Regions from separate parts of the Homo sapiens genome. Here region 2 is linked to region 1. The links come from fine-mapping of genetic effects on gene expression. A gene starts in region 1. The other region holds a variant in brackets. All regions are shown on one strand. Distances are from middle to middle.

What was found. PIP is the estimated chance that this variant, and not a neighbour inherited with it, causes the effect.
Region 2: its variant is the best candidate, but not a certain one, in a credible set for the expression of SBSPON in esophagus mucosa (GTEx, PIP 0.62).

Annotation. Positions count from the first base shown.
Region 1 is chr8:73,091,442-73,094,354 of GRCh38, forward strand. SBSPON (somatomedin B and thrombospondin type 1 domain containing) reads right to left here and starts at 1,731. Exons shown (of 5, transcript NM_153225.4): 1 at 1,413-1,731. The coding sequence starts at 1,626.
Region 2 is chr8:73,164,680-73,167,592 of GRCh38, forward strand. All of the region lies in intron 2 of LOC107986891 (a long non-coding RNA gene), which reads right to left. Among named protein-coding and RNA genes, the nearest start is that of SBSPON, 73 kb to the left of the region's middle. The variant C/T (reference allele first, on the strand shown) is at 1,401.

The DNA.
Region 1 (2,913 bases):
GCTTACCACAGATCAGGGGACATTAGCTGGGTCACAGGAATTCCATAATTACCTTTAAAATGTATGCAAGCCCCTCATGAGAGAGAGGCTTTGCTTGAGTTATGCAGGGAAATGAGGCCGACAGTTTAGGATGCTGTGAGGAGGGGCTGGAGTTACCTGGCTCAAGGGCACTGCATTTCCTAAATAGCTGACTCTTCCATCTTACTTTAGTAGTAAAATACTCTGAACTTAGAGCCAGAAAGGGAAAGAAGCTTATCAAAAAGCTTTATCAAAAATAATATCAATATTCACAGGTAAATCATTAGCTTTCAACCAGGGTCAAAAAATCTTAATGCTTTCAACTGTGTTCTTTCAGCATCGGGCCTGGCCACGGGTTGAAGCCCTCTTCAAACAGCACAGAGGCAGGAGGGTGCTCCCCGCCACTGGGTATCCGGTTGCCCAGGGAATGGCATAGCCCCAGAAAATGCTGAGGCTCCCACATGTCGGGATCCTTCAGCTCGAACCCTAATATCTGTGTGGCTTTGGGGATGATGTGATTAACAGGAGCAGGGCGACTTCCACTTCCATGGCTGGCTTCTCTCAGGTACACCTTGTTCCTCAAGGCTGTACTCATCATTTGTTCCTTTATCTTTTAATTCAATTAAACCAGCTTTTATTGAGCCCTTACGGGGACAAGGAACTGTGAGATACTGTGGGAAATTTAAAGTTGAAAAAGACTGACCCTAAAGGAAAACCAGCAAGATTACAACATAATAGGGACCTCGAGATAAAATCCTTGTCATGCTGTACAGAGAAAATTAAATTCCAAGAACATACTGTACACCTCCTAGGAGAAAGAGGCTGTTCTACATTTTGGGGTCCAGAGATGAGGACATCTTCAGATTTTTAAGACCTTGCTCTCCAGAAGAAAGTATTAATACCTTCCCAGAGCACGCCCTTGGCACAAAGTGGGAAGATTACACAATCCTGCCCTCATCACCCCTCACCAGCCCCAAAGATCCCCGAGGGTTGACAGAATGAAGGTGGTGGAGCCTGGCCCAGGGGCATGCCCCTTATCTGTCAGTGCCATCTCTGCCGGCCAGAGGTGGCCCTATCCAGCTGGAGTTTCTGAGTCGGAGATTTCGTCTCTCGGCTCCCTTCCATCCCGCTGGAGAACAGCGGGATCCAGCCCTTCCATCCGGGCTCTGGTCTGTCTTGGGGGTGGGGGGACACTTCGATGTCTAGCAGGGGACTGGGAGACCCTAGGATGAACGGAGCCGGGCGTACCTGGATGGCGGTGGTGGGGATGGGTGGGGATAAAGGGTCTGGAGGACACCTGGCTCAGGGACTGAGGTCCTTGGCACAGCGCCCTGCCCTGTGCCCGTTGGTTGCAGGCTAACGGCCGGCGCCCCACTCTCGGCCTGACCACCCACCTGGGCACGCCCTGTCGTAGTCGAAGCAGCAGTCCCCGGTGAAGCGACAGGCTTGGTCGCAGAAACACGTCCCGTAGACCCTGTCCAGCCTCCAGCCGCGGGCGAAGCAGGCGGGGTCCCGGCCGGGACAGCAGCGCCCGGCCTCGGCGCAGCCGGCCTGGGCCCCGGGCCACAGCCGCGACAGCGCGCACAGCGCCATCCACAGGGTCCTCATGGCCAGGGCTCCGGCGGCGCCTGCGACGCGACAGACCCCCGGGGCAAGCGCTCTGATCCTCGGCTGGCCGCGGCCCGGGAGCTGCCCGAGCGGCCGGCGAGGCACAGCCGGGCCCTGCCCTGCGCCCGGCCCCCGCCCTCCGCGCCGCCCCTCCCCAGCCCTGGCGGCGCGCCCGTCGAGGCCCGGGCGGGTGGCGGGGCTGCCCTGCCCAGGTGGGGAGGGCGCTGCAGTTCCCGGGACGGGCCCGCAATCGACGGTCCGGGCGCCACCCACTCCCCGCTGCCAGCTCGCGCCCCAGCTCCAGCCCGGGGACCTCCGGGGCGCGGGAGCGGAAAAGCAGGTGCTGGCGGGGCGGGGGTCGGGGTGGGGTGCCGGGGCGTAGCCAGGAGCCCGGCGGGGGAGGCCACATTTCCTGGCTCTAAACTGTACTTCTAACGCCTGGGGACACATTAACGAGCGGGCATTTTCACTCTAAAGCCATGAGACCAAGAGCACTCGATGGGCACCAAACGTGTCTCAGCAGCACTCTGCGCGGGCCACCCCGCCTTCGCCCGGGAAAGCTCATTCAAATACAAAGTGGACACCAGCTCGCCCACCCTCTCAGTCCCCGCAGGCCGCAGAGAAGCTAGGAGATAAGTCCAAAGAAGCATCCTTTCTTTCTGCTGCATTTATAATGGGACTCTTCTGCCCCAGGAAAATGCCACTTCGCTTCACGAGGAGGCAATTTGTGAATGGTGGGAAGAATAAATAAAATAACGGGGCTCTGTTTTCTGATAAACCAATTTCTCCCCCTAAAAACTCTGTGTACTGATATTTTAGAACTTTCACTTTAATAAAATGCTTGCCTAACTTTTAATATATATATTTTCTTCTCCCTTTCTCTCCAAATGTGTTACGTTTTCTGCACCACTCTTTTTGTTCACCCAAATTTATGCTGGAATTTTCATTTTATGTTCTTAAATCATTTACCCTAATATGGTTTTTATGTGAAACCAGGAATATAACGTTTTTTGCATCTGCGAACCTAAGAAATCAAATTAATTTCATAGACTTTCTTTCTTTCTCATATAAGGATTTACAGAGGAATTTTCTTTATTCATCAGAGAGAAAAGTTAACAAAAGTAGAAATGAAAAACTTGACTACAAAAGTAGTGAAACAATACGGTAATCAACCATACAAAACACATTGTGAAATGAAGAAGATTTAATACATTATAAGAATTTTATCTTATAAACTCTAACCACAAAGTTTGACCAGTGGAGACTGTAATCTTATTTCATCTTCCA
Region 2 (2,913 bases), 73 kb after region 1:
CTTAAAAAAGATTTAGCCAGCCTTGTAAGTTCCTTTCAACCCTCATGATTATGTCAAAGAGAAAGTATCAGTTTGGGACTAATATATCTTTTTTTTTTTTGGAGGGGGGACTAATATATCTTTAATATGTTTCTAACACTTCTGAATCTCCTTTTAGTAAAGAGAGAGCACAGGCCTCAGGCTCAGTCTTTGGCAAGCAGCAGTTACTAGCTAGAATTTAATAACATTGTTTTATTTTCATTGTGTTTACTTTGCATTTATTTTCTACTTATGGCAAGTAGTGTAGCATTCCTTGTGTAATAAGATACAAAATTACCTTTTAAGTATATTTATCTAATTTTAAAATGAGTTAATGTAAAGAAAATATTAATATAAAAGTACAGGTAGTAGTTGGAAGGTAAACATGTGACTTTAATGACAATTGCCTGACATTTAGGAAACACTAGTCTATTCTAAAGACTTCATCTTAGAGATAGGCAAACCAGAACTCTGCAAGTTAGGTGGCTTTGCCCAAGATCACACAGTTCCTAGTGATGGAGACAGTCCATTGTCCGTTTCATAGTGATGGAGTCCATTGTCCGTTTCAGCACAGCACATTGCTGTGACTTACATCGCAAGAGTACTAAGAGCCAACCCTACAATGAGAAACACAGCTCAGAGTGGTACCAGCTATTATTTACACATGCACACACATGAAAATCAAGCAACTCGCAGCAAAGTCAAGCCTCACTGTTGGTTTAGGTCTTCAATACCGAAACAGTCTTATTTCTTCTTTTTTCACTTCCAGAGTGGCCAATGGACTGGACAATGAGTCATTCCTATGTAGCTTATATAAACAAATTCAAACCATTCTTTTTAAAAAGCACTCATAGCCAAGTGTGGTGGTGCACGCCTGCAGGCCCAGCCACTTGAGAGGCCAAGGTGGGAGGATTGCTTGAGGCCAGGAGTTTGAGACCAGCCAGGGCAACATAGCAAGACTTCCGTCTCCAAAAAATAAAAATGAAACAATTTCTGTCACCAAATTATGAAAATTCAAAAATAAAAATAAAAAAATTTTTAAAAAATGTTTAAGTAAAAAGCACTCACAATCACAGAATTCTGGAAGCTTGGAAGAATAGCTAATTCCATCTTGTAAACAGTTTGAGAAATAGTTGAGGGAAGCAAAGCTGGGCTTTTACATGTTCCAGGGCACTGGCCCTGCATCCCAGCTCTTGTGCTTACAATTCCTGGAGCTGACAGTTCAAATATTTTCCTTTTTCTCTAATGTTCTTGCTCTCTTGATGCCATTTTCTACAAATCTAAAGATTTTATTTGGTCTTCAGTGAAAAATTACAACCACTGGGGTGAGTGCTAATGGGATGTCTGATCTAGCCCTTTTGCTACTGTCAGGGACTTCAACT[C/T]GTAAACTCACTAGCAAGAGGAGAATCCACCCTGCTTAGGAGGGTGCCAGAGAAGGTCATTTTACAACTTTCAGACACTCATTCTAGCTGGCAAGACAGTTTTCCTCTTGCTAATTGAATCCGCCCAGCCAAGAGTGCATGCACGTCTCTCTTCGTTCCCTTCTCCGTGGACAGCAATGGCCTCCTGTTTTTGTAAAATAAACTTTACGTGTTTGAAGATTATTCCCGAACTTCCCCTTGACTTTTTCTCTCCAAAATGGCCTCTTCCTAGTTTTTCCATCTTCATGCAAAAATAACATCTACCAATCTACTTTTTCATCTTTGTGGCTTACCTCTGAGTTTTCATCTTACTTTTTCCTGTCACTCATAAGTTGTTGAGTCCAGAACAGAGCACAGTATTTTGAGGGCGTGTGTAGTCAGTGCAAAAATGCCCAACATCCCTGCTTCCTTGGAAGGTCCAAATGCCTTAGAGCCTGCGGGTATCTCCTGGACTCTCCAGGCCCAGGCAAATCTGTTCGGAGGCCCGTGGAGTCCTAGCATGTCTCTGATTATTCGTGTTCCATCCATACACATTTTAGGTCAGAAACGGTGGAGGAGGAACCTCAGAGACAGACCCTCTAACGTCTTAAATAGAAAGTCCAGTTTAGCACTCAGGTCACGTGGGGGCCTAGAGCAGTGGTCCCCAACGTTTTTGGCACCAGGGACTGGTTTCATGGAAGACAATTTTTCTACAGACACAGGGGAGATTGTTTCAGGATGAAACTGTTCCATCTCAGATCATCAGGCATTAGATTCTCATAAGGAGCACACAACCTAGATCCCTCACATGTGCAGTTCACAATACAGTTCATGCTCCTGTGGGAATCTAATGCCACTGCTGATCTGACAAGAGGTGGAGTTCAGGCAGTAATGCTCACTCACCCACTGCTCACCTGCTGTGTGGCCCAGTTCCTAACAGGCCACACACAGACCAGTACCAGTCCATGGCCTGGGGGTTAGTGACCCCTGATCTAGAGGACGACTAAAAGCTTAGCCAGGTCCTAAAGCCTCCACAGAAGAACAAACTAACTAATTAATTATTAGGGGAAATCAGATATACAGATCACTCTGGACCTTGCCTAACTCTTCCCAAAGTCATCCAATCATCCAAAGCTGCTGTGCAGAATGGCTTTAGGGGTACTGAGAGATCACAGAGAGACGCCCCTCTCCCCAGCATTATGGAAGAAATTGTATGCTGTGTCTAAATTTCAATTTCCTTAACACACTTGAGCTCCATTTAGCAATGCTACGTAACACTTGCCCTGCCCACCTGGCAATGGTGTGAGAATGAGTCACATAGGGTGACACTCTGAAAACTGGCAAAACCAATGGAGGACAGAGCGGGGTGGGGGCAGCAGGTCCTAAGAGCAAGCTTTGACACAGTCTGTCTCTGAGCTGACAGAACTCCTCCAGAACCCTGGATGTGTTTCTGTTCACCTGTGGCCTTGGACCTGATGTTTATGTAAGAACTCAT